Homo sapiens: one gene and its partners. The protein of the gene in region 5 purifies or fractionates together with the protein of the main gene of each other region. This does not show direct contact. Each region holds a gene or a part of one and is shown on either strand. Other genes may lie near its edges. The genes, in order: USP1, FLVCR1, ATP2B1, MROH1, OPALIN, FIRRM and ATP2C1.

What was found.
Region 1: the proteins of OPALIN (region 5) and USP1 purify together in Homo sapiens (co-immunoprecipitation; 2 studies listed by BioGRID and IntAct, with this or other methods). This does not show direct contact.
Region 2: the proteins of OPALIN (region 5) and FLVCR1 purify together in Homo sapiens (co-immunoprecipitation; 2 studies listed by BioGRID and IntAct, with this or other methods). This does not show direct contact.
Region 3: the proteins of OPALIN (region 5) and ATP2B1 purify together in Homo sapiens (co-immunoprecipitation; 2 studies listed by BioGRID and IntAct, with this or other methods). This does not show direct contact.
Region 4: the proteins of OPALIN (region 5) and MROH1 purify together in Homo sapiens (co-immunoprecipitation; 2 studies listed by BioGRID and IntAct, with this or other methods). This does not show direct contact.
Region 6: the proteins of OPALIN (region 5) and FIRRM purify together in Homo sapiens (co-immunoprecipitation; 2 studies listed by BioGRID and IntAct, with this or other methods). This does not show direct contact.
Region 7: the proteins of OPALIN (region 5) and ATP2C1 purify together in Homo sapiens (co-immunoprecipitation; 2 studies listed by BioGRID and IntAct, with this or other methods). This does not show direct contact.

What each region holds. Positions count from the first base shown.
Region 1 is NC_000001.11:62,440,049-62,443,548, forward strand, and holds part of USP1 (ubiquitin carboxyl-terminal hydrolase 1), read left to right. Parts: intron 1-1,439; coding exon 1,440-1,560; intron 1,561-2,146; coding exon 2,147-2,251; intron 2,252-3,110; coding exon 3,111-3,271; intron 3,272-3,500. UniProt on the Homo sapiens protein: Negative regulator of DNA damage repair which specifically deubiquitinates monoubiquitinated FANCD2. Also involved in PCNA-mediated translesion synthesis (TLS) by deubiquitinating monoubiquitinated PCNA.
Region 2 is NC_000001.11:212,896,275-212,899,863, forward strand, and holds the end of FLVCR1 (choline/ethanolamine transporter FLVCR1), read left to right. Parts: 3' UTR 1-3,089; downstream 3,090-3,589.
Region 3 is NC_000012.12:89,618,339-89,621,838, reverse strand, and holds part of ATP2B1 (plasma membrane calcium-transporting ATPase 1), read left to right. Parts: intron 1-47; coding exon 48-290; intron 291-1,598; coding exon 1,599-1,840; intron 1,841-3,500. UniProt on the Homo sapiens protein: Catalyzes the hydrolysis of ATP coupled with the transport of calcium from the cytoplasm to the extracellular space thereby maintaining intracellular calcium homeostasis.
Region 4 is NC_000008.11:144,245,516-144,249,015, reverse strand, and holds part of MROH1 (maestro heat-like repeat-containing protein family member 1), read right to left. Parts: intron 1,716-3,500; coding exon 1,580-1,715; intron 1,450-1,579; coding exon 1,337-1,449; intron 858-1,336; coding exon of another isoform or gene 739-857; intron 479-738; coding exon of another isoform or gene 286-478; exon of another isoform or gene 170-285; intron 140-169; coding exon 1-139. UniProt on the Homo sapiens protein: Lysosome fission factor. Recruited to lysosomes by RAB7 (RAB7A or RAB7B) at scission sites and homooligomerizes to mediate the constriction and scission of lysosomal tubules. May sever membranes by inserting amphipathic helices into one bilayer leaflet.
Region 5 is NC_000010.11:96,356,203-96,360,490, reverse strand, and holds the start of OPALIN (opalin), read left to right. Parts: upstream 1-1,488; 5' UTR 1,489-1,594; coding exon 1,595-1,597; intron 1,598-3,331; exon of another isoform or gene 3,332-3,581; intron 3,582-4,288. UniProt on the Homo sapiens protein: Central nervous system-specific myelin protein that increase myelin genes expression during oligodendrocyte differentiation. Promotes oligodendrocyte terminal differentiation.
Region 6 is NC_000001.11:169,801,540-169,805,039, reverse strand, and holds part of FIRRM (FIGNL1-interacting regulator of recombination and mitosis), read right to left. Parts: intron 2,420-3,500; coding exon 2,315-2,419; intron 1,872-2,314; coding exon 1,731-1,871; intron 966-1,730; coding exon 800-965; coding exon of another isoform or gene 792-799; exon of another isoform or gene 654-791; intron 1-653. UniProt on the Homo sapiens protein: Regulates PLK1 kinase activity at kinetochores and promotes faithful chromosome segregation in prometaphase by bridging kinase and phosphatase activities.
Region 7 is NC_000003.12:130,956,584-130,960,083, forward strand, and holds part of ATP2C1 (calcium-transporting ATPase type 2C member 1), read left to right. Parts: intron 1-2,691; coding exon 2,692-2,758; intron 2,759-3,500. UniProt on the Homo sapiens protein: ATP-driven pump that supplies the Golgi apparatus with Ca(2+) and Mn(2+) ions, both essential cofactors for processing and trafficking of newly synthesized proteins in the secretory pathway.

The DNA of each region.
Region 1 (3,500 bases), on a different chromosome or scaffold from region 5:
ACATTTCTGTACTTTAAAAATTCTACAGTAAAGCAGCAGTGAACTTGGTTGACAACTCCAGTCTGACTTGATAGTCTGTAGCGGCACAAAAAAGTACGCTTCAGTGTACTTCTTAGTCAAATCTAGCAGTTTATAGTAGGAACAGCAAAACTGGTGGTTCCCCGTAGGAATCACATCGATAATGTTTAACTCATGTTAACACTGTGCTCAGCCATTTAGACTAACTTGGAGAAATATTTGTTGACTAAAATTGTCTTTCTGAGTTTAAATTTGATTATTTGTAGTGCAAAACATCTGTGTAGGGGTAAAAGGTTTTATATATATATATATATATATTTGTTTGGTTCAGAAGACTTGACAGTTATAAGACATTTTAAACTCTAGTCATGTAACTAGTCATACCTGTTGGAGGCATATGATTGCAAATTATAAAAATAAACTTTAAGTAATGCTTTTGATGCAAATAAATTATTTAGCTACAGAAAATAAATCAGAACAAAGTGGAATACTTTATTCCACCACCAGCAGCTCTAGCTGGAGTCTGTACTACTCCCTGTTTAACATATAGGCACTCTGCTGGGTGACTAAGGTGGATTTGGTCCCATGTGTTAATTTCCTAATAGCTATCAATAACCAGTTGAGGAGATTTGTGAGAGTGAAGCTTTTGTTTATCAGCATTCATACTTCTGAATACTTTGAGGTGCTAGAGTAATAATAGCTAGCAATCGTAAAATAAATGAAAATATTGGAAGGACCTAGTGGTTTTTTTGTTGTTGTTGTTAAAGAAGTAAAAGAATAGTAAACTTAAAGCATTTGTGTTTTGAGATGGGGTCTCCTTGTGTTGCCCAGGCTGGTCTTGAATTCCTGGGCTCGAGCAGTCCTCCCAAGTAGCTGGAATTACATGTCAATGCCCCCACACCCACATTCTGAACATTTTATTTTTAAGTGAGGGATAGCTACATATTTTTTTTTTTTTTACCAGCAGGAAGTCATATATAATTCTCTTCACAGACTTTCTTTCCTCTGAATTCTTATTAATAGAATCTTACTTAGTGCAGCCTCTCCCAAATATTGTCATGGTTAGTTTATTCCCAGGTTTCTGTTCAGTTAAACTATTTGATTAAAATGTCAAAGTAGATGAAACAAATCATAGTCTCTCAGTTCCTCAATTTTCTACTCTGTAAAATAGGATTAACATCCTTTTAAGGGAATTGTTCTGTGGCTTGTTATGTGTAATAATGTTTTTAAATGCTTTTAAAACTTTTATTCTGGGCATATAGCAATTTTTGAGCCTGTATTTCTTAAAATGTCATCTGAACAAGATTCACATACTTTTCAGATTATACAACTTTTGGGAAAAGACTAAATCTACAGAAGTAATATTTTCACCTTGTTTCTTTAAGATAACTACTTATCGTTCTCCCTTCTATATTTCATAGTGATCAAGTTGTTCCTGCAGCACAGTCTTCACCTATAAACTGTGAGAAGAGAGAAAACTTGTTACCATTTGTGGGACTGAATAATCTCGGCAATACTTGCTATCTTAATAGTATACTTCAGGTAAATTGACAATTTTGCTATATCATAAAGCTTTAGTAGGCAAAGATTGATGTAGCATTTAATGTTTTTGAGTTATTGGAGGACTTTAATGTCCATACTGTCTTTGCCTTTGATTGTTAATAAACCAGAATAGGCTAAAATAATAAGTTACATGTTATTAAACTTCCTTTGGGGTAAGAGAAAATGATAGACTAAATAAAGGTGGGATAGCAAAATTGAGTAGACCTTAAGTGGAAGGTCAAACCTTTAATTTCTTTCTCTGATTCCTGGTGCTACAGTGTGATATATGTCTTATCCCTTGGAAGTAACGTTGGCATTGTGTTGTGTGTCCGTTGGCGCTGTGTTGTGTGTCCTTGTAACCTTAAAGTCTTAGCAATATCTGCCCAGGTGCAGTGCTTTGTGCTAATGAGGGAAGACACTGGGCTACTACTGATGAAGTGGAGAACAAATTTTGACACAAAACTTAATCTCAGAATTTTAGGGTAATACATGTTAAAAGTGCTCTATAGAAAGCATGATGTTGTTTTAATGATTTTACGTGTATTGTTTGTTCAGTAAACACTTAAGACAATCTCACTTTTTATAGGTATTATATTTTTGTCCCGGTTTTAAATCTGGAGTAAAGCACTTATTTAATATTATTTCAAGGAAGAAAGAAGCTCTAAAGGATGAAGCCAATCAAAAAGACAAGGTAAGAAAAATAAAGAACAGAAAATAATGTAAAAAGCAAAAGTAAATTAATGGAAATTTACTTGCCTGGAAATGAAGAGGACTGGGGGGGTGGATGACAAAGATTATTTCTCTGTTAGCGAGCTATTGTCAGGCAATTATTTTTCATTCTTTCAAGGTGGCTAACTAGATAATTCCCTTTTACAATGTTTGCTCCTGTAATCTGTGTATCAAACTTTTGTTACTTGTATACTATATATTACTGTATACTATAATCACAATATGTTATACCCATGTACAACTTATTTACCCATTGTGTTTTCAAATTGAGTTAAAATTTAAATACAGTGTATTTAAAGAAATCTTTAACTTCCATAATTAAAAAACCATTGTAATTCACATAAATAGTAATTCATAATTCCTCTTAAAATTACAAAAAAGACCAGACGTGGTGGCTCATGCCTGTAATCCCAGCAGTTTGGGAGGTCAAGGTGGGTGGTGGATTGCTTGAGCGCAAGAGTTTGAGACCAGCCTGGGTAACATGGCAAGACCCTGTCTTTACTAAAAATACAAAAACTAGTAGGGCGTCATGGTGTGAGCCTGTAGTTCCAGCTAATTGGGAGGCTGAGGTGGAGGATTGCTTGAGCCCAGGAGGTTGAGGCTCCAGTGAGCCGCGATCAAGCCACTGCACTCCAGCCTGGGCGACAGAGACCCTGTCTCAAAATAAAAAAATAAAAAATAAGGCTTATTTGTACATCCCTTAAAATTAGTGCTATTATGCAACTTAGAAAATCTAGTATTCTTAAGTGAGACAAAGACAAAGGGGGAAGGTACTTAATTTGTTCATAAAATTATTGGTTTGTGTGTTTCTTTCTTGACAGGGAAATTGCAAAGAAGATTCTTTGGCAAGTTATGAATTGATATGCAGTTTACAGTCCTTAATCATTTCGGTTGAACAGCTCCAGGCTAGTTTTCTCTTAAATCCAGAGAAATATACTGATGAACTTGCCACTCAGCCAAGGCGACTGCTTAACACACTGAGGTATAGCCTATAATATAATTTTAGGGTTTCAATTTAGCTACTTGTTTATATCCTTGGAGGAGAATGACATGCGAAGAAACAGGAATAAAGGGCAAGGAAAGTAGAAACTCTAGGTCCACAGTCCTTTATATCCCAGAGACTCTGAATACTGGAAATTTTTTTCATAAATTTGGTGCTAAATTCGTTAGATCTGAACATATTATATGAGGCTTTTTATAGTCATTCATAT
Region 2 (3,589 bases), on a different chromosome or scaffold from region 5:
TAGCCTACATGTCCCCATTTAGTGGAGACCTCTTGAATGCTATTTGAATTCTGCAGTATCATTTTTATGACCATTCTCCTTTGAGGAATACTATGCCCAGGTACATGCTCTATCAGTGTGCCGGGAGAGTGGATTCTTTTCTTCACTGCAGAGTCATCACACTGTTAGAATAGTCTGCTCTTTTACATGCTCAGGTAGGGAAAATAGGACCAAATATATTTCCACAGTGCCTACCACTGTGTCATGTTTACAGTGAGAGTTTAAATATTGTTGATGTCCTGACTCTGTGAGCTCATAGGGAGTATCTTCATAGTAATGACATTTGATCAGCCATAAAATTTACATTATGTTCATATGCACCCAAAAAAGCTAGTCAGGTAATGAATACCCTTGAAGTGAATAGCAATTTTGATTTAGGCAGTGTGTTAGGCCATCCTTGCATTGCTATAAAGAAATATTTAGGCTGGGCGTGGTGGCTCACGCCTGTAATCCCAGCACTTTGGGAGGCTGAAGCGTGTGGATCACCTGAGGTCAGGAGTTCAAGACCAGCCTGGCCAACATGGTAAAACCCCATCTCTACTAAAAAAAAAAAAAAAAAAAAAAAAAAAAAAAAAGGCCAGGCGCAGTGCTGTGGCTCATGCCTGTAATCTCAGCACTTTGGGAGGCCAAGGCAGGTGGATCACAAAGTCAGGAGTTCAAAACCAGCCTGGCCAAGATGGTGAAACCCCATCTCTACTAAAAATACAAAAATTAGCGCAGTGGCAGGCGCCTGTAATCCCAGCTACTCAGGAGGCTGAGGCAGGAGAATCGCTTGAATGCGAATGGCAGAGGTTGCAGTGAGCGAAAATCACACTACTGCACTCCAGCCTGGGAGATAAAGTGAGACTGTCTCAAATAAATAAATAAATAAATAAATAAATAAATAAATAAATAAATAAAACCTGAGGTTGAGCACGATGGCTCACACCTATAGTCCCAGCACTTTGGGAGGCTGAGGTGGGTGGATCATTTGAGGCCAGGAGTTGAAGACCAGTCTGGCCAACATGGCAAAACCCCATCTCTACTAAAAATACATACACACACACACACACACACAAATTAGCCGGGCATGGTGGCACACGCCTGTAGTCCCAGCTTCTTGGGAAGCTGAGGCATGAGAATTGCCTGAACCTGGAAGGCGGAGGCTACAGTGAGCTGAGATTGCGCCACTGCACTCCAGCCTGGGTGACAGAGCGAGACTCTGTTTCAGGAAAAAAAGAACAGAAATACCTGAGACTGGGTAATTTATAAATAAAAGAGGTTTAAGTGGCTCACAGTTCTGCAGGCTGTGTAAGCATGGCACCAGTGTCTGCTCGGCTTCTGGGGAGCCCTCAGGGAGCTTTACTCATGGTGAAAGGCTAAGTGGGAGCAGAGATGTCACATGGCGAAGCAGGAGCAAGAGAGCAGGGAGGTGCCACACACCTTCAAACAACCAGATTTTGTGAAAACTCACTCATTACTGCAAGGACAGCACCAAGCCATGAGGGATCCACCCGCAGGACCCAAACACCTTCTATTAGGGCCAACCTTCAACATTGGGGATTACATTTCAATGTGAGATTGGAGGGACAAGTATCCCAACTATATCAGGCAGAATATATGCATTGATATATATTGAAATTATAACATTCTCTATAATCAAGTGACTGTAAATTATGTCGAATCTGACCCTGGGGAATGTGTTATCTAAAGAATTTGACTAAGAATCAGGAACTCTGTGTCCATGTCCTGGATGTATTTCTGTATGTTCCTATAACTCTGGACAAATCATTAAACCTCTCTGGGCAGCGTTTTCCTCATCCATGAAATGAATGTGTTCAATTTGATCTCAAAGATCTTTCCAAAATATTAAATGCCATTAATCATGGAATAGACCAAATTATTGTATCACAGGAACTTGAATCCAGCCAGAGAAAAATTCCCTGGACAATTGGATAAACAAATGTGATTGCTACCTTATGGATACAACGGACTTTTACATTTCTTTTTAGCCTTTTTAGTCAGTTGAGGGTAACTCAAGCAGAGTATGTCCAATCATTAGCTTCCTTTGATATTTACATTACAGGTAAAAACGGCCAAAAATATATTTTAAGGTCTCTCCCCAAATGTTTTTATTTTTAAACTATCAATGTTGTTTAAAATAATCATGTACTTGTTGAGTTCCTGAGGTTTGGAACAAATTACACATAAAATTTAGAATACTTTATTTCTGAAAAGCATATACATATATGTTATGTTTATTTTTCCTTGTTGATTAGAAAGGTGATGGAATATGTGACAATGCAAAATGAATTGATAATTTTTCTGTATTTTGAGTGAAAGTTGTCTGTAATATGTCAAGCAAGAATGTTATAATTCTACAGTAATGTGTGACTTCATGACAGAGCTACATTCTGAGAAATTTGTCATTAGGTGATTTCATCATTGTGTGAACATCATGAAGTGTACTTACACAAACCTAGGTGGTAGAGCCTACTGCACACCTGGGCTAGATGGCAAAGTCTGTCGCTTCTGGGCTACAGACCTGTACAGCATGGTACTGTATTGAATACTGTAGGCAACTGTAACACAATGGTATCTGTGTAATCTAAACATAGAACAGATAATACATTGTGCTACAATGTAACAATGGCTGTGGCATCACTAGGTGATAGGAATTTTTCAGTTCCATTATAATCTTATAGGATCTCTGTCATATGTGGTCAATTGTTGATCGAAACATGACTGTATGTCGTATTTTCAGAAAATGGAATAGGTAATCATCACTTGTGTGAATTTTAATCAAATGACTTAGGAAAGAAACTGGATGTTTCAAAAGCTGTTGCATTTATTACAAATGTCACAAATACAGCTCTTGCCTTTTGAGAATGTTGGAGAGATGTCTTTAAAAAATATGTTTGTGTGTAAAAATGTGTCTGTATGCAATAGCTAGAAAAATGCCTGTGTCTTAAGTCATTACTCATGTTCTAATTTTTGTTCTTTGTACTATTTATCTGTATGCTTGTTCTTCAGTATTTCAGACTCAAAATAAATTTATTTTTTTATGTTAATTTTCTGTGACTTTTTGAAAAATTCTGATGCTTAGGTACACATGGGGAGTTTAAAGGGATTATAAAATTTCAGAATGGGCAAAGAGGGAATGAGGTAGTGCATGGAACATAAAATGAGGAAACAAAGTCTACCAGGGTCAGGGCTAAAATAGATACTAAAATATTTTATTCCTTTAAAAGTAACTTTAGAGAGTGATGTTAGCAAGATGGCAGAATAGGAGCTTTATATCATCATTCTTCCACAGAAGCATTGATTTTTACCAGTACTTTCAGATGGTAGTTCTTTTGTAGGAATCCAGAAGTCCTACGTGGAAGTTCCAGCACACCATTGGAGCAGAAATATCTGAGAATAAATGCATTAAAGAAAAGGAAGAAGAAGATTTTCACTTTATCTGCATCACTCTTTGAAGTTGGCACAGCTTAGTGGCAAGAGAGACTCCCCTCAGTCCACAATTTCTCCCATGGGAGAAGGTGATAGCATAGTGAGAGTGCTCAGCCCC
Region 3 (3,500 bases), on a different chromosome or scaffold from region 5:
TGGTTTTATATGCAGCTTAACTAGTTTTTTTTTTTTGGTCACTGTAGAAAATGATGAAAGATAATAACTTAGTAAGGCATCTGGATGCTTGTGAAACCATGGGAAATGCTACAGCTATTTGTTCAGATAAAACAGGAACTTTGACAATGAACAGAATGACAGTCGTTCAAGCTTACATAAATGAAAAACATTATAAAAAGGTTCCTGAACCAGAAGCTATTCCACCAAATATTTTGTCCTATCTTGTAACAGGAATTTCTGTGAATTGTGCTTATACATCAAAAATATTGGTAAGGTTTTTGAAATAATTTATGAAAATTAATTTTTAAATCTATAATGATCAGACTATATGTAAGTCTTCAGACCACCATTACTGTATGTAAACTGAACTGTTAAGTTTTTAAAAGGCATATATTTATTTATATAATGGTTTTTAAATTTGTGTTATGAGTGAGGTCTGCTGATCAACATAAACATTGTTTGCTTACATTTTTCTCCTATATTTTGAATTTCCTGTGTTCAGAAACTCTCCAGCCTTATAACCAGAGCATGTATTTAATTTTAAATTCTTGTTAAGCTCATTTTTGAGAAAGATCAAACTGTCTTACTATAGGAGGTCAGCTCTCAACTTACAGAAAATTTTTAAGCCGATTTCAACTTAAAATAACATGTTTTATATATGGTTGCCATGTGTTCTGTTTGGTTTCTCAGTAGTTCCTACCTAAAAGGTGGTCCTTAGACCTTTTTAGAACTAATGCAGTAAAGTAATTCTAGACTTGTGCCACCATATAATAAAAAATTTTCAACTTACAAGTTTTAAAAATCTTATTTATAACAGAAAGAATGCGATGTTATGTTTGACTTAATCTCTTCTAGTGATTTATGGATGAAAATCATTAACAAAAATAATATTGCAAGCTGTTCATTAGGGAAAACATACATGAATTGGATGATTACATTGGAAAGTTATGGGATCTTGGTTCTAGATCTAGCTTTGCCTTTTACTAGCTGAAAGTCTGAGCTACCTTCTTTAATTACTGAGTAAAGATGATCACATCTGCCCTTAATACCATTGTGATAATTATGTAAAGTGGTATTTCTGAAGGCACTATGAAGGAATTGAAGCTTCTCACTGCATTTAAGAGAACAGTATTTTAATGAATGTACTTTTAAGCCATAAAAATTGGTAGATTTAATTTTGAATGATTTAGTATAAAAGTTAAGTGAAAACAGGAAAAGGAAATTAAAATTAAGTTCCACTCTGTATTAGGAACCAACTATAAACTTCATACATCTTATATCACTTAATTTTGGGGTCATAAGTGCTCCTATTTTACAGATGCTGAAGCCAAGGACCAAAGCAGTTGGGTAATTGTCAAATTTCACGTAGCTAGTAACTGGCAGGACTGAGATTAGAATCCATGTCATTCTCACCCCAGGCTCCTTTCTACCTTACTTTTCTATATCCTTCTTTAAAATGTTGATATTAGACAATTGCTTTGTAATTTTATTTTAGAATATCGCAGTCTGTTTTACATTATAAATTAAACGTTCTTAGAGAAACGAGATACTAGCTACTAAATGTTTTTCTCTTATAGCCACCAGAGAAAGAGGGTGGATTACCTCGTCACGTTGGTAATAAAACTGAATGTGCCTTGTTGGGACTTCTTTTGGATTTAAAACGGGATTATCAGGATGTTAGAAATGAAATACCAGAAGAAGCACTGTACAAAGTCTACACCTTCAATTCTGTTAGGAAGTCCATGAGTACTGTCCTGAAAAATTCAGATGGAAGTTATCGAATATTCAGCAAGGGTGCATCTGAGATAATTCTGAAAAAGTAAGAGTAAAATGCTTGGATGAATAAATTGCTGACTATAGTTGCTTTATGGAGTATCTACTGTGTTGTTATTGTTGTTGTCTTTTTGTGAACATCAGGCATTTGATAGGACCTCAGAGTTTTTTAGCATATTTTATGGTATCCAGATATTTGCCCCTGCTATTCTGCCATTTTCACACTCTAGCTTCTCTTATTTCTTAGCATTTTGTTATAGGGAAAATAAGCTCATTACATTCAATCTGGTATGTTTAATGAAGTATACTTTGATGTTTATTTTTAGAAGTCGATTTACTTGTTATTTAATATGCAGAATCTTGAAAAGCCTCCTGGGAAGAAAATCAAGTTTATGTCTTTCTTTCTTTCTTTTTTTTTTTTTTTTTATTTGTTTAAGGTGGAGTTTCCCTGTATCACCCAGGCTGGAGTGCAGTGGCGCGATCTCAGCTCACTTCACCCTCCGCCCCTGGGTTCAAGGGATTCTCCTGCCTCAGCCTCCCAAGTAACTGGGATTACAGGCACCTGCCACCACGCCTGGCTAATTTTTGTATTTTTAGTAGAGTCAGGGTTTCACCATGTTGGCCAGGCTGGTCTTGAACTCCTGACCTCAAGTAATCTGCCTGTGTCGGCCTCCCAAAGTGCTGGGATTACAGACGTGAGTCACTGCACCTGGCCTCAAGTTTAGATCTTCAACGCTCATTGTGGTTACTGGACTCTGAATGTGATAAGAGAATTATGAAGTAATTTTTAGAATAGCAAAGCATAAAAGCTGGATCTTGGAAATTCCCCATTTATATCAAAATGAGATTTATCATGTTTATGCTGCTGCAGTGTCGTATTTAAATATCTCCTGTCATTTTGAATACTAATTTTTCTTACTGTCCTTTTACAGATCAGTAGCTTTAATTTTGTTATTACATGTTCACATATAATTTCCCTGATGTTTATTTGTTATTAAAGGTGGTGAAATTATTTTAGTTTCTTTAATTTCATTAAAGAAGTAGAGAACTGGTTAAAAAAAAATACTGGTTAAGAGCAAGTTGGGAAAATTGGAACTCATTTGAAATTATAATATTTAAAATATTAAAGTAAATGTTTAAGATATACTTTTAATTTGCTTACATGTGGATTATAAGCCAGTATTAATGAACACTTTACAATTAGTTTAAGAGACAAATATATAAATAAATAACTGAAGGCAGCATATAATAAATTGGTACAAAGTTTTTGGGTGAGAGATCACACTGTAGGGATGTGGCATTTAAGATAGATTTTGGTATGAAATGAGAACTTCGAGGTGGGGAAACCACAGCAGAGGAAAGGAGATGAGAATATGCAGGTCATACTGGGGAGGGGAATATCTGGTTGTATAGTTCAGCTGAATAGTGATGGGCTTTTGTGGCACACAGGCCATATACAGCTTTCTTCTTGCCACAGTACACTCAGTTACCTGATTTCATTGAAAAGGTTAGAAATCTGTTTCAACCCTGGCTTGCTGGGTAGTAGATAGATGGTTTAGGAGAGAATTTTTTTTAGTCAAAACTGATCAGGCATTGACTCTTTCTCTGCAACTAACTAGCTTCTGGATATGGGGCAGATTTTTCCCTTACTTCCATTTTTCTCATCTGAGAAAGCGGGTGATGACCACCAACTCTGTGGCACTTAA
Region 4 (3,500 bases), on a different chromosome or scaffold from region 5:
CACCGCCCCGCTCCTGCAGCAGGCAGTTGATCATGACGGTAGCTGCTCGGGAGCAGTTCTTTTCGGGGTCTCCCAGGGCCTCAAACATGGTTAGCAAGAGGCTGATGAGCTGGTCTGGGGGGAGGCGCTTGGCAATAATCTAGGAGGAAGGCGATGCCAGAGGTTGAGGGAAGGGGGGCACCCCCAACGCCACTTCTGTTAGGCATCGGGTCTCAGGGGCTCGCGTTAGGGCGGGAAGCCACACCCCTTCTTGCAGCCGGGCCCCAGCCGCTGGGCCCTGCGCCTTCAATGAGCTCGCTGCACGGGGGTGGGGTCTCCTTCTCCGGAACCTGCCAGGGCCTGCTGGAACCTGGGCGGGCTCCTGGAAGGTGGTGCCTGGGCAGCTGCAGGGCTGGGGTCACAGTACCCTCCCTCAGGCTCCTTCTGACCAGTGAAGTGGGCTGGGAGCAGCCCTGTGGTGCAGTCGCCCTGGAGCTCTCTAGAACACGGGGTCAAGGGCAGGTGAGCCTTAGCTCACACCTGTGATCCCAGCACCAGAAAAGGCCCTGGTGACCTACCCCTCCTTCCTCTGCAGGAGACACAGTCTCTGGACCTGGAAGGCCATTCCTAAGCACCAAATGGAGACAGGCCGTGTTCCAGCTTGGGGACCCACATGAGAGCACGGAGGGAGGGGCAGCTTTCTCATCCCCTTGGAAGGACTCTTTTTTTCCCCCCCGTAATGCAATACTTTAATAATACTCAAGCTTGTGTTGTGAGCTGAGCCTCAGAGTAGACCAGGCAGGCATGGGTCGGGGAGGGGACGCGGTGCCCAGGGTCATCCTCCCTTCAGATGGCAGTAGACAAAGCACCTTGACCAGCTGGAACCAAGGGCAGGCCCCTTGGCAAGAGGGCTAGAGCCCGCTGCACCCTGCAGGCGATGACCCTAGCCCCCCACGTGGCTCTTGGGTAGCCTCTGGGGACAACACCACACAGGGCAGCCGCTGAAGATTCTGTTCCAGAAACCTGCATCTTCATGAGCAGGCCAGGGTATCAGTGGCAGACAGAGGGCGGCTGTGCCTCATGGCACCCCATTCTCTCCTTGGCCTCTGCCAGGTCTCAAGACAAATAGCACCTTCCTCTCATATGGACTGCACTGCCCCAGCGTAGGCGGGTGTGGGTGATGGGGCCAGCGCAGGGCAGCGCCGGCAACTAATGCAAACACCCAGGCCCTGCTCATGCCCACTGGCCATGGGTGGCACTTCCAGAGGCTAGGGGAGGCCAGGTGCCACCTCGGAAGTCCCTGTTAGCCCCAGACAGTGCCAGCCTGCCTTCCGGCCGCAGAGCTCCCAGCTGGTACCTGGCCTACACTGTGGCAGGTGTGGAAGAGAATGGCGGGGTCAGGGTGCACGAGGCCGTCCTTGAGGCTGAGGAGCCGCTCCGCCACGTCATCGCGGTAGTCCCGGGAGAAGCCTGAGAGGCGGCAGGAATGAGCAGTCGGGCCCAGGCCCTCCCTGGCGATCCCACAGCCTGGACTCCGCACCTCATCCCTCCAAGCACCCCTGCACGACCACTGGCCCCCACACTCCTGACGAGGGCTCACCCTCATAGCCGAGCTGGAGGTACAGCAGGGAGTAGACACAGTCCACGGCCTCCTGGCGGGTGGCAGGCCACAGGTCCGCACACCGTGGGGAGAAGAGGCCGATGAGAAGGCCCAGGTTGTGGAAGGGCACCAGGGCCTGGAGGAGGAGATGCCTGGGCTATTAGAATGCTGGGGGTGGGTGGATGCCACCTATGCCACCTGTACCCAGAGGAGGGCTGGAGTGTGGCCAGGAGTGCTGCTGGTGTCCACGAAGCCCTGGGCCCTCAGTGTGGCCAACACAGCTCCCAGTGAGTTCCTCCCTCCCCTCCTGCTGCAGCGTGGGCGCTGCTCAGCTCAGCTCTGACCACACCTCGTCTACACCAGGGCCACACAGGCTCCCAGGCCGGGCCCCTACAAGAAGGAGGGCCAGGCCATGCCGACGTGGGCACGCAGGCGTGTGCAGGCAGACGGACAACTGGGGTGAGGAGGGGGCCCCAAATGGGAGGAGTGCACGGGCTCTGCCAATTTGGGTGAGGGGCAGGACTGTACAAGACCCCCTCACACCCTGACTGTCCTGGTCCTGCCTTCCAGAGCCTTTCTGCTCTCCTCAGTCCTGCTCCTCCCATGCTCCTATAGGCAGACAGCTTCCTCCTACTTCCACACCTCCTCCCTGGCAGACGCACCTGTCCCCCTCCCACCACCTGCTCCCTTTTCAGCCCCCACGTGCGAGGCCTTCCTGGGAGGTGCTCCCACCCTACCCTTGCACAGGATCCTGGGCTCAGATGGAAACCTGGTATCTACTTGGGCGCCACTGATGAGAAAGAATTTCAAGTCAGAAGGGAAAGGCTGGAATGTTAGAGAAAGACTGCAGGGTGACCAGCCATTGTTCTTAGACTGGGCATCCATCACATCATGCACCAAGGTAAGCTTCAGCCAGACCAGGGTTATGTGATGAACAGGCCATGAAAGTATGAGGTGGGAAGAGCCCTGAACACACGAGATTTGACCACATAAAGAATGAAAGTTTCGGCAGGGCGCGGTGGCTCATGCCTGTAATCCCAGCACTTTGGGAGGCTGAGGTGGGCAGATCACTTGAGGTCAGGAGTTCAAGACCAGTCTGGGAATTCAAGACCAGTTCAAGGCCAACAGGATGAAACCCCATCTCTACTAAAAATACAAAAATTAGCCGGCAGTGGTGGTGGGCGCCTGTAATCCCAGCTACTCGGGAGGCTGGGGCAGGAGAATCGCTTGAACCCAGGAGGCGGAGGTTGCTGTGAGCCAAGATTGCGCCACTGCACTCCAGCCTGGGTGAGAGCGAGAGACTCGGTCTCAGAAAGGAAAGAAAGGAAAGAAAGGAAGGAAGGAAAGGAAGGAAAGGAAGGAAAGGAAGGAGGAAGGGAGGGAGGGAGGGGAGGAAGGGAGGGAGGTGAGGGAGGGAGGGAAAGAAAAAAAAGAAAAGATAGTTTTGGTGCATTAACAAAAGGCCAGGTGCAGTGGCTCCCATCTGTAACCCCAGCATCTGTCATCCCAGCACTTTAGGAGGCCGAGACAGGAGGATCACTTGAGCCCAAGAGTTCAAGACCAGCCTGGGCAATGTAGCAAGACCCATCTCTACAAAAAATAAAAGAAAATCAGCTGGGTGTGGTGGCATGCACCTGTAGTCTCAGCTACTCGGGAGGCCAAGGCGGGAGGATCACTTGAGCCCAGGAGTTCCAGGCTGCAGTGAGCTGTGTTTGCACCATTGCACTCCAGCCTGGGCAACAGAGTGAGACCCTGTCTCAGGGAAAAAAAGAGAGAGAAAAGAAAGCCTAGAATAATCCTGACAGATGATAAAAAGATATTTAGCAAAATCTAATACCTGTTCCTGATAAAAGTTCTCATTAAAACAAATAGATGCTTCTGGAACATGATAAAAATATCGCCAACCAAATCAAGCACCGCG
Region 5 (4,288 bases):
AGGCCGGCCACTCCCAAACGGATGTCTTCAGCCCCAGATCCCCTTTATCCAGTCGCCTACTTGGCACCCACACTTGGACAGCCCCTAGGCTACTCAGGTGTAAGGGCAATCTGTTTCTCCAGTATTACCTGCCTAAGCTAATAGCATCTCCATTTTTGTTAGTCAAGCCTCAAACCCAGGAGTTGGCTTTATTCTTCTCTTTCCCTCACCTCGCCCTTCCCCGCCCCATATTTTTTTCATCATTTAATCCCAGTGGCTCCACCTCCACAGTAGAGAGCACAATCATTCACTGCTGTCTTCCTACAGCAGCCACCTTCATCGCTCACCTGGACTCCACTAGCCAGCCACCTGCTTCCACTCTCTTCCCCTGTAATCTTGGCTCCACAGAGAAGCCCTAGCAATCCTCGTCACCAGCAATTACATCATGCATCTCTCCCACTGAAAAACCCTTGGAAAAGGTTTCATCTAAGGATGAAAATCTTACCATGCCCTCCCATGTCACATCAAAAGGGCTCAAACTCACTCCGTCCTTAGCCCCTTCCCGGGTGACTCCCTGGTTTATGTTGTTCCAGCCAACCGGCCTCCTGCCTGCTCTGGGAGTGCACCAAGCTTACAGGGCTTAGCATTTGCTGTGGCTTCTGCCTGGGACTCTCCTCCCTCAACCCTTCACATGTCTGCCCTCTTCTCATCTTTCACGCACAGCTTCAGTGCCATCTCCCAGAGTCATCTAAACAACGGCCTCCTCTGTCACTTGAGTCGCTCTCTCCTTACACTCCTATCTGCTCCTCTCACAGTGGTTTTCATTTCAATGGCCAAATTATTGGTTTAATTCTGTTGTTTTATTAGCAACTCATTCACCATTTTAAAGAGGCAAATCCCTAACAGGGAAATTGTAAGTTATAAAGCAGCCCAAGTCCATGGCTTCCTCCAGGTCTAGAGAGCTTCCCACCCAAAATACAAAAACAGAGAGGGGGTGAGGCTGAACTCACACCAGGCAGCTCATTGGCCACTGAGTGCAGCACCTTGCAGCAGCTGGAGCCCCCAGCAGTGTGACTCCTGCAACAGAATGGGCCCCCACCCCTCCTCCAGACATCCCGAATGTCCATGCTGTTGTCCATGTAACACAATGACTCCATCATTATCAGTAACATGGTTAATGTGGACTCCCGTCAGCTGGGGATGGAGTGGCCAGCCTCAGCCTCATGTAACCCATTGTTTCCAAAGGGCTGCAGGCTGCAGAAGCCCCCAAGCTCTCAGGCCAGCTGTGGCTTCTTTGCTGAGATGGAGGTATAGCCAAGAAAGCAGCCTGAAAAGTAAGGACAGAAAATCAAGGCAAAGAGGGTGGGTGAACCAGGCCATACACGTCGGCCATGCAGCAGCAGCCCATCTTTCCCGAGGGATGGACTGAGGGCTTGGCTACTCCCCTGACCATAAATGGCTTGGCCAGGGTTCTCTTGGAGCCACCTCTCAGCCTGCCTCTGCAGCTTTGTCAGTTAACTGTTCCTACAAATGAAAGACACAAGCCAATAAAGCCAGTGAGAAAGGAGCTTACCAAAGGCAGTGTACGAAGAAGGTTCCTGGGAGACTGTCAGAAATGGTGAGTGAAAGCTGGCATCTCTTCTCAATCGAACTTTCATTTCTTACTATAAAAAACCTCCAAATTCAATTAAATGTACAATGAAGTAAAGGGACTTTATTTTAAATTATTTTCCTATATGCAAAATACCAATAATTTTTTAAACTTCTCACCTAATATTTGCTGATCTTGTCTTTCATTTTGGTATTAAGGTTTGTTTTTAAAACCCCACATACAAGAGTACAGAGTAGATGTTTCACCTATGTTCCCTTTCTAGTTGAAGCAATGGATCTAATCAACGATTTTATCTGTCTTACTTGTTTAATCTGGCTTTTTGTTCCATCATCAGCAACATGGATGGTCATCATTGATCAGAAATTTTCCATCTTTCTTGTTTACTTGTGATAAATATTTTGTTGTGACTCAATCAAATGAAGTTTGCTAAGTTAGAAGAGAAAACAAGAGGGTTCTGTGATTTACTAAAGAATTATGGAAACAGCCTAGGTGTCCATCAGTGGATGAATGGATAAAGGGACTGTGGTTTATATGTATATATACAACTGAATATTAGCTTTAGAATAGGAGGAGACCCTGCCATTTGCCATGTTTGTCCTATTTGGACCTGGAGAACATTATGCTAAGTGAAATAAGCCAGACACAAAAAGAAGAATATTGTGTAATCTCACTTTCTTGTGGAATTTTTTTTTTTTTTTTTTTTTTTTTTTTTTACAAAAAGCATTGTTAAAAGGAGTAGAGCTCAGTCTGTGGAGTTAGGGAGATCTGTGATCTAACCTGATCTCTACCACTTAAAAGCTGGTGAGCAAAAACCTATCTTGGTCTCAGTTTCCACAGGTATAATATAGGAATAATAGTGCTCCCTTCATGGGGAGGTTGTGAGTATGGGGTCTTATACCCAGCACACCTTCAACAGCAGTAAGTTTTTATCCTGTCTCTTCCTCCTTCCTCTCACAAACTGCAAACTTATAATGAAGGACGTTCAGCCACTGAGATCCCAAAATGCCTTCAGAATCATTGTGTAGATACTGCATAGTGCTCAGACTAGCAGTAAGCAATAATTGCATTGTATCCAATTCTAGTACTTTGACTATCACTAACTCATGCTTGCAATTCCATTCCACAAGAACTTTCCTATCCTTAGCTCTGTGCTGGCCAGGCCATAAAGAATATGCTACCACGTGATCCCTAAAACACAGAGGGTGTTTTACAGTTTGGGAGAAAGGAGCTGCCACAGATGACATTACGGTATTCCCTTGTGAAGTGGGCAAGGCAAGTTAATAGTATCCCATTTTGAGAATGGGAAAACTGAGCCTTGGAGAATAGATTTGTTGTGAGAAAATGGAGACCAGAGGGTTTGAGTGACTTATCCAAGACTACACAGCTCCTAAGTGGCTAAGTGTGGGCTCGAATTTAGATCAGGTGGCTCCAAGCTCAGGGTTGCATCATCCCACTCAGCTGTGTCTCTGAAGGGCACTGCATCAGATTCTTCTCCACCCTAATTTGTGCGATGTTTTTCTCTCCATGAGAGCACTGTACTGTGTTTCTACAAAATATGAGTGTCTTTCTGAAATTGGCCAAAATCTCCGTCATCCGAATGTTGATAAACAACACATGCAATGGCCCACTTGTTGCTGCACCCCCTCTTCTACTGTCCTCCCAAAGGAAGCTTTGTCTTAGGGCTGCTGACATCAGTCCTCAGTGCCCACTGATGAGATAAAGCTCTGGGCAGCTGCATTCAGTGCAGCGACCATCCAGTGTCCTTGCAGCACGTGTTGGTCTGGTGCTAGCGTGAAGAGCAGTGGTTAGGTCCCTTGAGCAAGAGGACCCTGACCTAAGAGGCCCAGACGTCCCTGTGTTCCACCGTCATCCCAGAAGCAGAGGTGCACAGTGCTGTCAGCCTGGGTGCTCTGATTCATCCACAGAGACTACTGGAGTTGCTTGGAAGCCTTGCAGAGTGGTGGAAAGAGGTTGTCACCGGGACACTCAGGTTCTGGTGACAGCTAAGTAGTTGTTTGGACTTGGGAAACCTGTTCAAATTCTTGAGGCTTGGTTATTCTCTATAAAATGCGGGTGTCCTATTGCCAAGAGGGGGAGAAGTGAGCAGAGGCACCACTGAAGCGTGCTAGTTGAGCAGGGCCACGTTGATTGAAGGACATAATATTTGGGGCAAAAGCTAGGGGGACTTACACATTCTAGGTGCTTAAAACACTTCTGGTTCACAAAAGATTTTCTTGTTCATTAACCCATCTGAATTCCAATCCATCAGTAAGTCAGCTGAAATAGGTGTTTTGTCAGTTTGCTTCTGTTGGGATGAGATCCTCTGTTACCATCTTTCGGGTTGGGGTTGAGTCACATAGACTGCGGCCCATTGGCTGGTCTATGTGGCTCCAACTGTTCTCATTTGTCCATGAGGTGATTTCTGATAAGTCCCTGGGTTTCAGTTTCCTCTGCTGGAAAATGAGGGTTTTGAGAGAGATGATCTTTCAGGTAATTCAGGTGTGAAACATGATTCTTTTGGATTCTTTAATGTTTCACAACTTTCCTATTGTTGGATAACATTTAATTTTAAAACTTAATGAATGCATTGTTTCTACAATGACAGAATCTGGTCTTGGGATGCTGGAAAGACGGGAAGCTGTGGTGTAGACCAAGCCCAGGGAAATATCTGGGGGTCAGGGAGACCGAGGCTGAAGG
Region 6 (3,500 bases), on a different chromosome or scaffold from region 5:
TGATAAAATCAATGAAGTGTGTTACGACCAGCAATTCTTTAAAAATAAACTAGTATTGGCTGGGCACGGTGGCTCATGCCTGTAATCCCAGCACTTTGGGAGGCTGAGGCAGGTGGATTACCTGAGGTCAGGAGTTCAAGACCAGCCTGGCCAACACGGTGAAACCCTGTCTCTACTAAAAATACAAAAATTAGCCAGGTGTGGTGGCGGACGCCTATAATCCCAGCTACTCATGAGGCTGAGGCAGGAGAATCGCTTGAGTCCGGGAGGCGAGGTTGCAGTGAGCCGAGATTGTGCCACTGCACTCCAGCCTGGGCTACACAGTGAGACTCTGTCTCAAAAAAATAAAATAAAATAAAAATAAACTAGTATAAAGTGCATCACATGTAAAATGAGTTATTTCATTATAATATGTATATGAGAATAGACATATTTACATACACATATGCACGTATTTATATGTATTCTGGAAGGAAATATAAACTGCATCTCAATATCAGTTATGGTTAAAAAAATGTGAAAGTTATTGTCTCTGAATATGGACAACCTCAGAGATTATAAAGTTATATAAGTTAATCATTGTGGAGAAATTACAGTAACTAAATACGCAAATCTAGGTTAAGGTACCCAAAATAAATTTTACAAATTCCAAATTTCAAGATTAAAAATTTATTTGGTAAGATTTAAATCAATTTTAATGCATAATTAGTAAGAAAATAACATGAATCATTAGAGACAATTTTAATTGATACATGATTTATAGTCACCATATACTAAGCAGAAAGTTTTCTTCACTCACCTATTACCATATTCAAAATATCATCATTGTCATCTACTAAAGGGTCCATGCAAACCATGTCCAGCAGTTCCATTAACTGCTTTTGAAGAGAATAGGCCTCCTTGAAAAGAGCCTGGAGAAGGTCTGAAACTAGGTGTAAACACCCAGAATACACAGATTCACTATTCTGATTACGGATAAATAAAAATGAGAGAAAAAACAAATCAAAGCTCAAGAGCCAAATTTACTTTAATTCATACTATTAGAGATCATAAATTTACTGAATCACATATTCATTCATTGTTTAGTGAACATCCATTAAATATAGTGTGCTTCAAGAGATGCAAGCATGTATAAAATATTATTTCTGACTTCCATGATCTTGCAAATACAGAACTAAAAAAGGGTAACATTAGGCCAGGTGCGTGACATTTTTAGCATCCTATCAGCAAAGAGAGGTATTAATTAACTAGTGATTTTCATTCGCCCAACAAATAGCAATATTAAAACTGTCTGTGACCCATAAATTCTAGGCAAGCTTTTGTGCCTCAAGGCTACCTCTGGCATGTAGAGATGGACTAAATAAGGATTAACTTTCCTTTATAAAAGGAAGTTCTGACATCTAATCATAATGGTAATTGAATATTGGTCAATGCAACATGACATAACTATTTCAGGATCCCTGTGTCTGTCTCAACACAAATTCTTAAAACTTCTTTCTTTATAGAGGGGAAATAAGATAAAACTAAAAAACCCCAAAAAGCCACTTTTAATGACTTCCTTAAAACCACTTTTTTTGCAACAATTATTTACTTACATGTTCTTTATTCTATGGAAAAGTTTATTTCAATAATATAGACTAAAATGTAAAATCTTATACAAACATTATTTTACTCAGCCCCTATGCACATTGATTATATACCATTCAAAGTATAATTAGACCTTTACTCACCTTACAATGCACAAATGTGCTTTTAATTATATGAAGGACTGAGGAGGGGAGACTCTGAATATTTTCCAAAATGATGGATTCCTGTGTGGCACAGATATGCTGAACACATCCTGTGAGAGCTCCTAAGAGCTGCACCATTGTCTGTGAATAAGGAAGGAAATTTCACTTAGAATATATTTTTTGTGCACTGAAAAGGTATTAGTCAGCATGCTGGGTGCTACAAATACAGCAATGAACAAAACACAGTCTCTTCCTCTTTTCACAGAACTTTAGTCTATCAGAACTACAAATACTGGAACAACTGTCTAGCCATTTAGAATACTAACACAAACTTCAAAACACATGGCAGGTGTTCCACACATATCCTTGAAAATACAGGTAGGGTCAGCTAGCTTGATGACTTCTCTTCTTATAAGAGTTTATTATTCAGAATTCATGTTTCTATATTCACGTCTTTAATTCTATAAATTTAATTCCAACATTAGGCCATTACATAAGAATACATAGCTAATCAGTATCAGTATAAAAATTTTGACATTCTTTAAGCTCCCTCTCTCTCCTGCTTTCTAATACATTTGACTTACTTGTAAAATATTCCTTAGAGTGGTCTGGATTTCCAAATTTTGGCTTGACAGTCCTCTGGCTTGACTGGTTAATTCATACATCATGTCATCGAATAATTTCACAGTCTGTAAAAACAAATCAAGTAATAAACAGGAATAAGAGAAATCACTAGAAAAGACAAGACAAAACTTTACAGAGAAAACACAATACGATAATTTGATTTTGCACTAGTAACATCCACAGGCTATCATCTAGCTTAACAATTGTACCTAATTAAGCACAAAATACAGAGAAAAGGTATTTTTACAACATAATCCCCCCAAAAGCCCCAAACAGAAATTTATTTTCCATTTCTATGGTTTGAATCTATTTAATAGCATCAATTTTTTTAAAAAATCACTCAAAGTTCATGTTTTAGAGATGCAAAAAATAAAAGTATTACTTTCGCACAATAAATTTGACTGTCTTGAAGAATCCACATTCATACAGTCATTTACAAGGGTATTTTCTGGAAGGAATTTGCACTGAATCGCCTATTCACTACTCACTTATTTTCTAACCAGTTTCCTTTTGACCCAATTCAAGCTAACCTTCCTGAATTAAGGGTATAGTAAATGACCTTACAAACAAGCTTTTTGTCTGTGAAAAGTTAGCCACCCTAGATCTTAATACTTGGATCTTTCTAACAATTTAAATGACCTAAACATTATAAGAATAGCAACACAGTCAACAATACAATGTAGCTAAAGAAAATACTGTTTCCCATAGGCCTGTTAACACTCAACATCCATTTTCATCTATGTAACAGTTGAATCTTTTTCTGGTGGTCAAGAACAAATTCTAAGAAATATTTCAGATAGAGAATCATCAAGTGACTATGAGTACAAGAAATTTGAAAGATTACGATTCAAAGCTAAAGTTAGAAACCCATTTCAATAAGAGATTAATTACAAATAATGTTTCATTTTGGCACCAAAGTATCTTTAGTTCCCTCCATTTAAAACAAAAAAGGTATGCTTGTGCTTTTCAGAGAAAACATATACCATATATATCTAAAATGTAATAATGTATTCTGTGAATTTAATGTTTTCTCTTAGTTACTTGATTTTGCCAATATTCCAGCTTTTCTTTTTTTTTTTTTTTTTTTTGAATTAAGGGTTTCACTCTGTCACCCAGGCTGGAGTACAGTGGCTTTAAAATACAAGA
Region 7 (3,500 bases), on a different chromosome or scaffold from region 5:
TTAGGATTTTTTGAGGGTTTTTTTTTGGTCATATAAATACTTCTTTAGTGTGGTGTCTTCTGGTAAATACCTCTCTTTTTTAAGGAAAAATTCTTAGAAATAAAATTATTTAGTCAAAGGGGATCCATGTAACTTTTAAATTTTTGGCCAGCTTTAAGTATTGTCATTAACTTCAACTGTAAATAAAAGAGTTCTCATTATTTGATTTCACAGTTCATTATTAGGGAAACCGAATGCTTTGTCATGTGTGGGTTGATCATTTTTATTTCATTTTATGACCTGCCAACGATTTCTTTTGTCCCTTTTCTTGTGTCTTGAGTCTTAGATTGATAAAAGCTTTTTATATGACTAGATTATCAATCTTTTTGTTGTATAAGTTTTTTTTTCCCGTTTAAGTTGCCTTTGAGGCATGTGGAATAAACTTGGTAAGAGGACAATATATGTAATTAACCATTTATGCCTAGTGTTCCATTATTGGAATGCTAAGCATGTGGGACTTATTTATATCCTACTGCTCAAGGTCATTGCCAAGGTCTGGTTGCAAAAATTCAAAAAATTGCAACCTCAGACACAAATGGGTTAAAACATCCCCTTTTCCTTGAGATTCTGTTATCACCCTCCTATTGATAATCTCTGCAATTAAGTTGGTTTTGTTCTGTTCCTAAAGATTTTCCCAACCTCATGTTTATAAGAACATTTATTAAAACATTGTTGTATAGTTTTTTATTTTTGACATTTTACTATTTTATTTAAAATTTATTTTAGTACATGGCTTAAGGCAGAGTTTTAACTTTTTTACTCAAGTTAATTATCCCATTAATTCTGTAATCCAGTCTTTATTCATTGGATTGAAGTCACGTTTTTATCACACATTAAGCACTTGCATTAATTTTGGAGTCTTTTCTCCTTTAATTTTCTTACCGTGTTAATTATTCCAGCTAGTTTAGTATTTCAAAGTCAGTAATACAATTTTTTTATTTGAGATGGAGTCTCATTCTTGTTGCTCAGGCTGAAGTGCAATGGCGCAATCCCGGCTGACTGTAACCTCCACCTCCTGGGGTTCAAGTGATTTCCCTGCCTCAGCCTCCCGAGTAGCTGGGATTACAGGTGTGCACCACCACACCTGGCTAATTTTTTTATTGTATTTTTAATAGGGACGGGATTTTACCACATTGGCCAGGCTGGTCTCAAACTCCTGAACTCATGTGATTGCCCACCTCAGCCTCCCAAAGTGCAGGGATTACAGGACTAATGCAATTTTAAAGCAATATTTCTGTTAATACAATATTAGTTGAAATAACTTTGTAAATAGTAATTCTGTTTATCCATCTATCTTCATTGTAAACATAAAGTAGAAGGTAGGAAGTTATCTTAGTTATTTTTGTTTTACTGGTGTGTATGCCCTCATAACTTCTTCCGTTTGATTATTGCTCATTTTCTAGAAATTTTATAGTGAATTTGATAGATCGAATGACATTCTAGCCAATTAAATCTTTGTAGTTTCTATTAGCACTATACCATAAACCATTTCAAATTTAGTAATAAATATGTTTCAACTTTACGATCTCTGGTTATATGTTAGTATATTACATTGGACATAATTTTTCTTGCCAAGGTCAAGAGCTAGATCAGGGGTCAGCAATTGTTTTTTTTTGTTTTTTGTAAAGAACTAGATAGTAAATATTTTAGTCCATATGGTCTCTGTTGGAAATACTTTACTTTGCCATTAGCATGAAAGCAATCATAGAAAATATGTAAATAAATGAGTGTGGCTATGTTCCAACAAATTTCATTTACCTAAGCAGACAGGAGACCCACAGATTATAGTTTGCTGACCCCTGGTATAATCCTTTGGACATAATTTCTTTCATCATGATAGTATTTGGGATAGGATCTTAGAAGGTTGCTATTTGGATAATTATTCTTTAGTTATATAAAGATGAAAAAAAAAACTTGTCTTAAATGTTCATATTGATTTGCAGTCTTGAGATAGCTTATTTTATCAAACCTCTCGTGAATCTGTTTGCTTTTTCCTCACAAACCTGCTTGTGCGCCCCTTTCCCCCTATTCTTTTCAAAGATAAAAGGTTAAAGCAAGGAGTATTGGTTTAATTGATTTTTAAATTTTTGAAATGCCATAAAAGTAGTGATTTTTAGATGTTAATGCAGTTGTAGGTGCTTAACGTAAGGCACATCACTTTTTGAGCCAAGTCGTAAGTGTCCCTTTGTGTGTAGTATGGATTTGCTGAGAAGTGTCTGGATATTGTGTTATGGAAAATAAAGTTTTAGGGTTTAATTTTGCATATTTGATATTAAATAGAAGACCTATATGTTTGCTGCCACCTTCTTTTTTTCATTGTATGAACATACTGGTAATTTTTAAAAAAATAATAAAATATTACTGCTTTAAGGGATGGTAGGAGCAGTGTCAACCAAAAGTAAAACTGTGTGTGTGTGTGCATGTGTGGTGTGTGTGTGCACACATGTACGTATGTGAGTATGCACAGCATTCACATTAAGCAGTGTTAACTTTAACCTCCCCTGTTTAATGGATTTTTATAAAATCTTCTAATTGTGATCTGATATGCTTTCCCTTTTTTGTCAAGGGACGTTTTAGATTCCTTCAGCTTGTTCTGTTCCTTCTAGGTGATTGTATGTAAAAGGGAAAAATAACTATTTAATTATCTTTCAGGAATCATCATGTTGGTTGGCTGGTTACTGGGAAAAGATATCCTGGAAATGTTTACTATTAGTGTAAGGTAAGTCTCAATACTTTATAATTGGAGTCTCTTTTGCCTCTTTTATTTCTCTAATGGACATAGCTTACGTTTTATTATGGAGATCAGTATTACATGGAGCCCATAAGAGTATAACATCGCTACATAAATAGTTCAGAAGTCATATATTAAAATTATCCTTAGAAAAATGAAAATGTATGTATATGGTAATGAAGAAAACCCATACTAGATGTCTGGAATTACTAATGCATTATTGCCTTTTTATATATAAATATACAATTAAGGATTGTCAAATTGAAAACTAGCAACATGAAAGAGAAAGTTCACAATATAGAAATTGAATAATCAATTTCAGAGGAAAACGAAACATTGAAGAAATGATGACAAATTTAAAAACCAAGTGTTTGTATTTTCAGAGACTTGTGAAGAAACTGCATCCATGAGATAAATTGTTGTAGAAAAGGATCAGAGAACAAAAAGAGTTTTTAGAAATTAAGATTATGATTGTTGAAATTAAAAATTCAATTGTAGGGGTGTAATATAAATTCAAAGAGGTCTCCCCCCAAAAAGAGTAAAAAGTCTTAGAATGAGATAAAATGATGAAGAGGAATAATTTCAGGAAATACCACTTGTAACTAATTGGAGTTTCAAAAATTACATAAGATATGACACACAAGTATTTTCTCAAGCTAAGGCAAAAAGTAAGTCTTTATAGATTGAAAGGATTCACTAAATACCAAGCAGAATGGAAAAAACTTCAACC